Linked DNA regions of Homo sapiens: region 2 is linked to region 1. The links come from fine-mapping of genetic effects on gene expression. Tissue or cell type: whole blood. Region 1 holds a variant in brackets; the other region holds the start of a gene. All regions are shown on one strand. Distances are from middle to middle.

The links. PIP is the estimated chance that this variant, and not a neighbour inherited with it, causes the effect.
Region 2: it holds the start of MYO9B, and the variant in region 1 is fine-mapped to the expression of MYO9B in whole blood (INTERVAL, PIP 0.99).

The regions. Positions count from the first base shown.
Region 1 is chr19:17,106,016-17,111,205 of GRCh38, forward strand. All of the region lies in intron 2 of MYO9B (myosin IXB), which reads left to right. Among named protein-coding and RNA genes, the nearest start is that of SNORA118, 16 kb to the left of the region's middle. RefSeq lists enhancers at 2,235-2,284, 4,317-4,426, 4,390-4,891. The variant A/G (reference allele first, on the strand shown) is at 2,638.
Region 2 is chr19:17,073,283-17,078,403 of GRCh38, forward strand. It overlaps MYO9B (myosin IXB), which reads left to right and starts at 2,495. Exons shown (of 40, transcript NM_004145.4): 1 at 2,495-2,592. HAUS8 (HAUS augmin like complex subunit 8) reads right to left here and starts at 2,170. Exons shown (of 11, transcript NM_033417.2): 1 at 2,112-2,170; 2 at 1-53. The coding sequence starts at 2,140. RefSeq lists an enhancer at 1,913-2,112 and silencers at 2,293-2,642, 2,637-2,931.

The DNA.
Region 1 (5,190 bases):
CTTTCTTGTCAGGGTCTCTCTCCGTTACCTAGAATGGAGTGCAGTGGCACAATCATAACTCACCGCAGCCTCGAGAACTTCTGGGCTCAAGCGATCCTCCCACCCAAGTAGCTGGAATTCCAGGTGTGCACCACCATGCCCGGCTAATTTTTAAATTTTCTGTAGAGACACAGTCTTACTATGTTCTCCAGGCTGGTCTCGAACTCCTGGCTTCCAGTGATCCTCCCACCTCAGCTGTTTTTAATATGGCTTGTCTTGTGTGCATTACATTATATACCCAGACCGCCCGTTCATTGCTGTGTGAGCATTTGCTGTGTGGCAGGCTATGATATAGGTGCTGGGCTATGTGGTGGCCAAAGTCAACACAAAATTCTCCCCAGGTAGAACTCGGGGAAGACTCTGGGTGACACAGGAGCTATAGAGGTTCTGAGCAGAGGTAGATGCAACCCAGCTCTGGTCTCCCGAGGCCGCCCTGGCGTCATCCCAGCTCTGAGACTCAGCCACAGTGAAACTGCCAGTGGCCCCAGTGTCCTCCCAGCAGGTGGCCAGGGGGCTCAACGGCTCTCCAGGCCAAAACATCAGTGCCTGGCATCCACACCCGAGATAAAACAGTGATCTTGAAAATTCAGCATGTGTGGCACACACCTGTAATCCCAGAGTCAGGAGGCTGAGTCCTGAGTCAGGAGGATTGCGTGAGCCTAGGAATTCCAGACCAGCCTGGGTAACATTGCAAGACCCCATCTCTACCAAAAAGTTTAAAAACTAGGCTGGGTGCAGTGGCTCATGCCTGTAATCCCAACACTTTGGGAGGCCAAGGCAGGTGGATCACCTGAGGTCAAGAGTTCGAGACCAGCCTGGCAAACATGGTGAAACCCCGTCTCTACTAAAAATACAAAAATTAGCCAGGTGTGGTGGCGAGCGCCTATAATCCCAGGTACTTCGGAGGCTGAGGCAGGAGAATGGCTTGAACTTGGGAGGTGGAGGTTGCAGTGAGCCAATATCGCACCATTGCACTCCAGCCTGGGCAACAAGAGCGAAATCTGTCTCAAAATTAAAAATAAAAATAAAAAATTAGCCAGGCATGGCAGTGCATGCCTGTGGTCTCAGCTCTCAGGAGCTTGAAGTGGGAGGATTGCTTGAGCCCAGAAGTTCAAGACTGCAGTGAGCTGTGATCACACACTGCACTCCAGCCTGGGTGACAGAGCAAGACCCTGTCTCAAAAAAATAACAAAAAAAATTTAGTAGGTGAATGAATGAGAGGGTAGATCCAACATTTACCATGTCAGACATTTTGCCAAATGGGACTAGGCAGGTGGGTAAATGCCTGAGCCCCGCAGAAATGACACGCCCAGCCCCAGGGTCTCAAAGTGGCACGGCCAGGAGGCAGGATTGCCACCTAGGTCTCAGTTCAGGGTCCATGTCCTCCCCACCACGTTGCTGCCTCCACAGCGCCATCTCACTAGGACCCTCCAGGGCGTGGACAAGTTTCCTGTTGCTAAGTGTTAGGGGCAAGGGAGTCTCCAACAACAGGGATTAAGGCTCTCATGGTCCTGGAGGCCAGAAGTCTGAAATCAAGGTGTCCACGGGGCCGCACTCCCTCCCGGCTCTGGGGGAGGATGCTTCAGGCCTCTTCAGCTTCTCTGGTGGCTGCAGATGTGCCCTGGCCTGTGGCCACGTCACATCAGTCTCTGCCTCTGTCGTCAGGGGCGTTCTTCCTGTGTGTCCATGTCTTCACGTGGCTTTCTTATAACAAGGACACCACTCATGGGATGTAGGGCCCATCCTACCCCGGCATGACCTCATCCTACCTAATTGCATTTGCAAAGACCCTATTTCCAAATAAGGTCACATACACAGTTTCTGGGGGTGAGGATGTGGATATAATTTTGGGGGCGGGGGGCTCAAGTCAGCCCACAGCATCCCCCATACAGCCCCACCTGGTCTGCTTCAAGTCCTACCTGGCCCCTGGCAAGTCCCACTTGGTGACATCTTGTGCCTGGGTCCTTGAGGGCTGCCCCAGATCCGCGATTGTCCTGGGGACCGGTAGTTCCTCCCCGGATGCCAGCAAAGCTCCCTCCAGCCTCCACGCCTGCACAGTCTCCAGTATGCCTTCAACAGCCATTAGTCACCCTCTGTGAGTCAGACCCCCGGTCCTGCCAGGCCAACCTGCTTGGGGCCTCAGCAGCGGGGGCTGGCGAGGCCAGTTTTCTCCAGCGGTTCTAAGCCGCTCGAGGGTGGTGCCCACGCCGGCTTCCAAAACAGGCTTGAGCCAAATCCACGTCATGGCAATAAACGTGCTTCCTGGGGCGACTGTTTGCAAAGGGATGTGATTGTCTTCACTGAGAGCTGGATTTCTCAACCTGGCTCTGCTGACATTCAGGGCCGGATCGTTCTCTGGGGAGGGAGTCATCCTGTGCATTGAAGGACATTGAGCAGCATCCCTGGCCTCCACCCACCAGATGCCAGGAGCACTCCCCACCCCGCAGGTGTGACACCCAGAAGTGTCCCCAGACATTTCATTGATTAGAGAGGTATTAACAAAATAGCTTCCCGTTGTCCCCTGGGGACAAATCACCCCCTGGGAATAGAACAGCTGTCTTTGAGTTCTTCCCATAAGACCCAATCACTGTTCATTGC[A/G]GCCACTGAGCTTTTAGAAATTATCTGTGAGTTCTTTCTGTTCTGTGCTAACTTAAGAGTCATTTTCTTTTTTTCTTTTTTTGAGATAGAGTCTTGCTCTATCGCCCAGGCTGGAGTGCAGTGGCACGATCTCGGCTCACTGGAACCTCTGCCTCCTGGGTTTGATTCTCCTGCCTCAGCCCTCCCGAGTAGCTGGGACTACAGGCGCCCACCACCGTGCCCGGCTAATGTTTGTATTTTTAGTAGAGACGGGTTTCACCATAGTGGCCAGGCTGGTCTCAAACTCCTGACCTCAAGTAATCTGCCCTCCTCAGCCTCCCAAAGTGCTGGGATTATAGGCGTGAGCCACCATGCCTGGCCCCAAGAATCTTTTTTTTAATTTTATTTATTTATTTATTTATTTATTTATTTATTTATTTATTTATTTATTTTGAAACAGAGTTTCTCTCTGTCTCCGGGCTGGAGTGCAGTGGCGCGATCTCGGCTCACTGCAAGTTCTGCCTCCCGGGTTCGTGCCATTCTCCTGCCTCAGCCTCCTGAGTAGCTGGGACTACAGGTGCTCACCACCACACCCAGCTAATTTTTTGTATTTTTAGTAGAGATGGGGTTTCACCGTGTTAGCCAGAATGGTCTCGATCTCCTGACCTCGTGGTCCGCCCACCTCAGCCTCCCAAAGTGCTGGGATTACAAGCATGAGCCACTGCGCCCGGCCATCATTTTCTAATAAGAGGAATAAGACCTCAGGCCCACTGGGTATCAGGGTTTGGGCTTCGTGATTTTCCTCCATCATCTCTAATCCCTCACGGCAGCTCTGCCCATTTTAAAGATGAGGAAACTGAGCCCCAGAGAGACACGTGGATGTGTGAGTTTCCTGAGGTGTCTATAACAAAGTATTACGGGCTGGGAGCCCTCAAACAGCAGGGGTTGATTCTCTCACAGTTCTGGAGGCCAGAAGTTGAAAATCAAGGTGTGGGCAGGGCTGGGTCCCTCTGGAGGCTCTGAGGGAGAATCTGTCCCAGGCCTCTCTCCCGGGTTCTGGTGGCTTCAGCCATCCTTGGAGCTCTGGGCTTGTGGCCGCATCACTCTGCCCTCTCCCTCCGTCGTCACCTGGTCTTCTCCCCTGTGTGTGTCCAATCTCCCTTGCCTTTCTCTCATGGGATCACCTCATCTCAAAATACTTACCTTCATGACATCTGCCAAGACCCCGTTTCCAGATAAAGCCACAGTCACAGGTTCTGGGGGTAAGGACTTAGACATGTCTTTTTTGGGAAGCCACAAGTCAACCCACTGCAGGTAGATTCCCCAGGCCACACCGCAGAGAGCCAAAGCCTAACCCGGGGTTTGAACCCGGCCTGAGCCCCAGCCCCCCGTTCAGGCTGCCTCTCTGCTCTCCCCTCTCTCGCCCGGGCTGCAGAAAGCCGGAGATCAGCACAACTCGCTGCATCGATTGGGGATTTTTTCTCAGCTCCCCGAAAGGAGAAGTTGAGCTGTTTTGAGGTTTGAGTGTCGCTGGATGCACCCCCTGACCCCCGCCCCCCGCGAGGGTTGCAGCCTCGCTGTGTAATGCTGACCAAAAAACAGGAAGGGAGCACTGTGGAAAGCCGGTTCCAATCAGCTGATCTGCCCGCCACTGCAGTTAACTGTTGCCATCACCTTTCACCAAGTCTAGGGGCTGCAGAAGCCATGAGTCTCCCCATCTTCCACATGGCCTCTAGCCTCCCAGTGCAGGCGCCCGTCGACAGCCCAGGGGCTGTGGATAGAGCACCTTACAGCATCGGCCATGGGGTCTCGCCGCAAAGCACACCCAGAACACGCTCCTCTCCCTTTGCCCACAGCCTCAGATCCACCAGGCACTCGCCTCGGTGCCCTTCTGAGAGCAGGCTGAGTCCAGGGGGCCAAAGGCTGGGGTTCCCTTCATCTGTCCTGAACTGTAGCAAGTGCAGCTGGCAGCTGGCAGCGTGCATGGGGTTTTCATTCTGAAAGCAGAAATAAAATAAGGATCCTTGCTTGTCAGGCTGTTGTCCCAAGGGTCCCTGGACTCCATGGAGCCCCTGTGGCCCGGCCCACAGTGGGACACGGTGACAGTGATGGGCTGCAGGGCGCAGAGGGACGCCCCCAGCTGGTGGAGCCAAGCTCACCCGAAGTTGTGCCGATGCCCAGGACATTCCAGTGAGGGACTGAGGAAGGGTCCTGAACGTGCCACTGCCCCAGACCCCCCTCTTGGGGCAAAGGAACCTAGGACTCGTACCCACCTGGACCGGGTCCTGAGCTCCTCCTTAGGGGCCCTACAAACCCAGTCTCATGTTTCCCCCAACTCCCCCAGCCCCTCTGCCATCAGCCAGGCCACTAGCTCTGTTCCCCCACCCACAGTCAGCACTGGGGTAGGTCACCTAGACCACAGTGCCATTATCCACTTCGACCTCTGCCCTCAAGGACACCTGCCTGGGCCACGTCCTTTCCCCCTGAGTCTGTCGGGCAAGACACAGTTGGATGCCAGCCTCCACCCAGCATTGGGGGCGTCATCTCATACGTCCTCACCACATCCTGATGTGG
Region 2 (5,121 bases), 33 kb before region 1:
TTTTATCCTTCTTCTTGGCACTGCTAGAATTTGTGGGGCCGGTTGCAGGCTTCCTGCAAGAGAAGAGAGAGAGGTCTTGTTCACCTCACTACCCAAGAAGCACAGGGAAGCCGGCGAGGTGCCTCTGCTAGTTGAAGCTCAGACAGCCCAGTCCAAGGGCTGCCAGAGGACAATTTCAGTGAGGGTGGGCCACCTCAACAGGAAAAGGGACACAAGGAGCAGCCAGCCCTGGTCACCTGGGCAAGAAGGCATAGGTGAACACCCAAACTGAGAAGAGAGGAGGGTAATGAGAGCTCTGTGGAAGAGATCACAGCAGATCTCAAATTATCCCTGGGTTCATTCATTCACCAGACATTGATGCACCTACTATATTCCAGTAGAGACACAGTGGTAACAAAACACAGAGCTCCTTCCCAGAAAGGGAAGAACAACATCTTGACAGGCAGGTACGAGGAGTGGTCCCAGCAGGTACCTCACTTTGGGAGGCTGAGGCTGGCGGATCACGAGGTCAGGAGATCGAGACCATCCTGGCTAACATGGTGAAACCCCATCTCTACTAAAAATACAAAAATGAGCTGGGGTGGTGGCATGCGCCTGTAGTCCCTCCTACTCAGGAGACTGACACAGGAGAACTGCTTGAACCCGGGAGGCACAGGTTGCAGTGAGCCAAGATCACGCCATTGCACTCCAGCCAGGGTGACAGTGAGACTCCGTCTCAATAAATAAATAAATAAAAATAAAAATAAAAATAAAAATAGAATGAAGCCTGATGTAATAGGAAAGAAGGGACCCTGAGATAGGAATCGCTGACTCATCAGCTGTGGGGGTGCAGGAGAGGGAGAATCTGGGATGACTAGGGGTTTCAGGGTTTCAGCCTGAGCTGGTGAGAAAAGAAGGGATCCAAGAACAGACACCAGCAACACAGGAGGGGCAAGTGGATGGGCAAGTGGAGGGGCAGGGCCAAGGCCAGGGCACTGTAACTCCTGCTCCCATCACCAAAGGCGGCTCCACTGGTCCCTGCGGCCACCTCCTCTGAAGCAGGCTCCCAGGACCCCAAAGTGAGACCCAGACAATGTTGGGGACACTTCCAGGCCACCGTGGGGAGAGGCAACTTAGCAAATGTTCGCCAGGTGCCAGCAGCTGCGCTCGCCCGTAGGCTCCTCCTAACCCGACAGCTTCCTAACTGTTCACACCTGCTTTTTCGTCGCTGCAAAACAAAGACGCACAGGTTTTACATAGGTCACCCCCGGGGCAGTCTCACAGCCAGAAAGAGACAAGAGCACAGACTCCCTCTGGGGACTGTGCTAGGGCTGTGGCCTCAAACCGAATGGGCTCCTGGGTGAACCTGCTGCGACCTGAGGGGGGTCCCTACAACCTGTGCGAGCCTCAGCTACTGCACCTGTACCTGGGAGGTGCTACTGTCAATCTATCGGTTACGGCAAGGGGCGGTGGAGTGATTCCTCTTGCTGGCCAATTTCACTTCAGTTTGCACCTGGCACAATCAACACTGGCAGAATTAACAAAACTAGACAAATATAGCCTCATGATCATTCATGCCTAGCTCTCGGTCAGTATTCAACTTCTTTCTTGTTCATGGTGTGTTACCCTAGGCAAGTCACTTCCCCTCCCTGGGTCTCCATCATCTCCTCAGTAAACTGGGAGCACAGAATAAAGCGCGTGGGAGGATTAAAGGGGACACTTTGGTCGCCCAACACTTGTTCACTGCATAACGATAATTCCAAGAGCGACATCACAGTAAAGACCCAGGCGCCGATCTAAGCGCGTTTCAGCCTCACGCGACGCCTACGAGGTTGAGCTGCGTCATCGGCCCCATTTCGTAGCGGAGGAAAGCGAGGCACTGGGCGGTCAGGCCGCTTGCCGGAGGTCGCCCAGCGTCCCAGCCGAGGACGCGGAACTCAGGGCCGGTCGGGTGTCAGCGCTCCGGAGCATGCGCAGAGGCAGCACGCCATCGGGGTCTTCAGGGGCCCGCGCAGTTCCTGGCGGGGTCGAACCCGAACTCACCCCGAGGGTCCTAACTCCCCACCTCCGCTGCCCATCCTCTCCAGCCCTATGGCGTCTACAAATCCAGACCTGCGGAAGCCCCAACTCACCCAGCGCCTCGCCCCGAGGAATCCGCCATTTTCCCGCCTTCCACCTCAAGGCCCGACCCGCCGGCTTTTCAAAGCCGGACCCGCCCCCTTGCTTGCGGGTCGGACCATTTGTGGAGACGCAGGAGGGGTGGCTGCGAGGCGTGAGGCAGCGCCGGCTAAGTGTGGAGAGCGCGGCCCCAGACGCGCGCTTCGCCTGTCCTCCCCTCGCACTTGGTCTCGCCCACCATCGGCGGTAGTGGGTAGGGGCGGTGGGTGGGACCTGATCTGTCGGACAGTAGGGGCGGGGCTTTTCGCGATGCCCCGCCCCTAGGAGCGCTGGCGTCACGCCCCCGTCCCCGCCTCTCCGGAACCCGGAAGCGGGAGCGCGCGGGGGAGCGGCGGGCGCGGCGGGGCGGAGCGGCTCGAGCAGCGGCGGGCTGGCAGGCGGTCGTCCGGCCGGGGACCCGGCCCGGGACCGGCGGCGCGCGGCGGCCGAGGCCAGGTGAGTACCAGGCAGCCTCGGGTTGGCGACTCGAGCTCGAAGCCTGCCTTTGGGGGCTGCGCAGAAGAGGGACGGAGCTGAGGGCTGATGGGGGACGCGACGGCAGGGGTCGAGGGGGCGGGAACGAGCCTGGGGGTCTTGGAGAGATTGCTGGGGATGAGGTGGAAGCGAGACGGTGAAGGAGAAAGTGGATGGGGATGGAGCTGGTGAGGGAGTTCGAGGGCGTGGGGGGGGTGAGTCTTGTGGCTTTGAGCAGCTTCTCTGAAGAGGACGTGGCTTAAGTGGTAATTGGGGGGTCGCAGGAAACGGCGTTGTGGGGAGGCACGGAGGCGGGAACGAGAGGCCCAGGCTGGGGGAGTGGGCAAGGCCAGGGGCGGGACAGCCGGGGTGCGGTTGAGGGGAAGGGGTGCGAGACCGATCTGGGGACGTCTGCCCGCGCGATTGAAGGAAGGGTGTCTGAGAAGAGGGCGGCGCCTGGCCCCCAGTGGGCGCTCAGTAAATGCGGGGGGTTCTGAACTAACTGATGCGGCAGCCGGCTATTGGGAAGCGGGGAAATGGGAGCTGGAAGGGAAGTAAACGGAGTAGAAGTCACGGTAAGAACTGAGGGTAGGCTTAGGGAGGGAGGGCCCGGAGAGGAGGGAAGAGAAGGAAGGGGTTAGAGTGGCCCCGTGCAGATAGATGTTGAGATGCAGCCCCTGGAGATTCCGTCCCCCCACCCTCCCCTCTTGATTCGTGTCCCTCCTGACTTCACACTTAACAGCTGGGTGACCTGGGACGAGTCCCAACACCCTCTGTGCCAGTGTCCTCGTCTTGGAAACTTCACCACCCTCCCCTTAAGACAGGACTAGCAGGATTCTGGGATTCCCTGGATCCAAGGAAGGGACCTCAGGGCCGGTTGTGGGGCCGGAACTGTGTTTCAGGAGGGAGTGTGCATGCACCCTCATGTACAGGACTGTCGCCACCTCCGCAGAGCTGCATCCTTGGACTTAAATGGGTAAAACGACATACAGGAAATCTGTCCCCCGGTTGCTCTGAGCTCAGCCCTGGAGAGGCACGACAGCCACGAGCCCTCCTTTCTTTCCTGGGCACCCTGGAGGCCAGGGGTCTTTAAGGGATGGCTTCTCTGCCTCTTTGTCTGAGGTGGGAGCCCGTGGGGACACTTTCCAGCCAGAGAGTCCCAACTCGGTTTGTTTTTTGATGTTGGAGTCTTCAGAATCTTAAGGTGTCCAGGAGCAGCCGGAGGTGACCTGGGCTACAGGAAAGTTATTCACATCTGACAGGCCTGGCTCTTGTGGCCCTGGCAGGGACTTTGTGCAGGGTGCTTTTGATTGGCATTCATTTCTCCCCTTTCCCAACTGTAGGGATCTTTATCTGGGATCTGCCAGAAGGGCTGGGGAACCCCAGCTTATGTTTAGTTTATAGCTCATTCAGGAGATGAACCCGGATAGCTGGAATATAAAGAGGGCCACAGAAAGATAAGCACCCCCTTCACTTCCAGAATATCCTGGCCTTTAGGAAAGGTGGCTTTGGCCTGGCTTGCCCCAGGACATGCAGTGACAGCCCACAGTCATGCCTCCTGCAAACATTGAACTGTAGGCTTGCACTGGCCTACAGAACAGGACCGGGATCTTCTGATCCCGCAGCCCTGCAATCGCCTCTTCCCTGCCGCTAGAGAATGGCCAAGCAGGGTCTTGTGGGGGGAGCACTGTGTTGGAGATCCTGGCTTTGGTCAAGTCTCTGTGCCTGTTTCTGACCTCTCACCTGCAAAATGAATGAATTGACCTCCATCAGCGTTTTTCAACCTTGAAACCCAACTCTTCTCATCACCGTCTTGTCTCCAGTCCATGTCCCCCAGCTCCCGGCCTTGAACTCCTCACAGCACCCCCACTCTCCATTCCTGGCTGCGATGATCCTACTTTTATTCCGTTTTCCATTCGACAGTTTGTATCCAAAAATGATTTTTTTTCAACCGCTTCTTCATCGTCCAAATAGAAAATTGCGGTGTTGAAGGTGCTTTTGCACATTGCACCTATTCCCAAAGCTTTGGAAACTGCAAATTTCTGGAAATCCCGAGGCAGTACCGTCCCTCGGGTCCAGTCTGGTGACTCAGTGGAGCAGGTAGAGACGTGGGAATCTCCCCTTTCTGTTTGGCTGTAGGATTCGTTATTCTCTCCCCACATGGACTTGTTAACTTGCTGCTTCCCATTCCTCATCTCTTCCAAATGGTGTGTCTTGGGTGGGCCTAGATTTCAGTTAGGCAAGGGTTGATTGTGCCAGACACTTGGTAGATTCCTGGGGACAGAGGTGAATCCTTATGACCCAGAGGACGGACACGCTAATGCCCGCCCCCGACAACTTTGCACTTCCTCTTCAGAAAGAATGGAGTTCAAGCTGGGCCGCGGTGGCTCAGGCCTGTAATCCCTTTGGGAGGCCAAGGTGGGTGGATCACAAGGTCAGGAGTTCAAGACCAGCCTGACCAATATGGAGAAACCCTGTCTCCACTAAAAATACAAAAATTAGCCCGGCGTG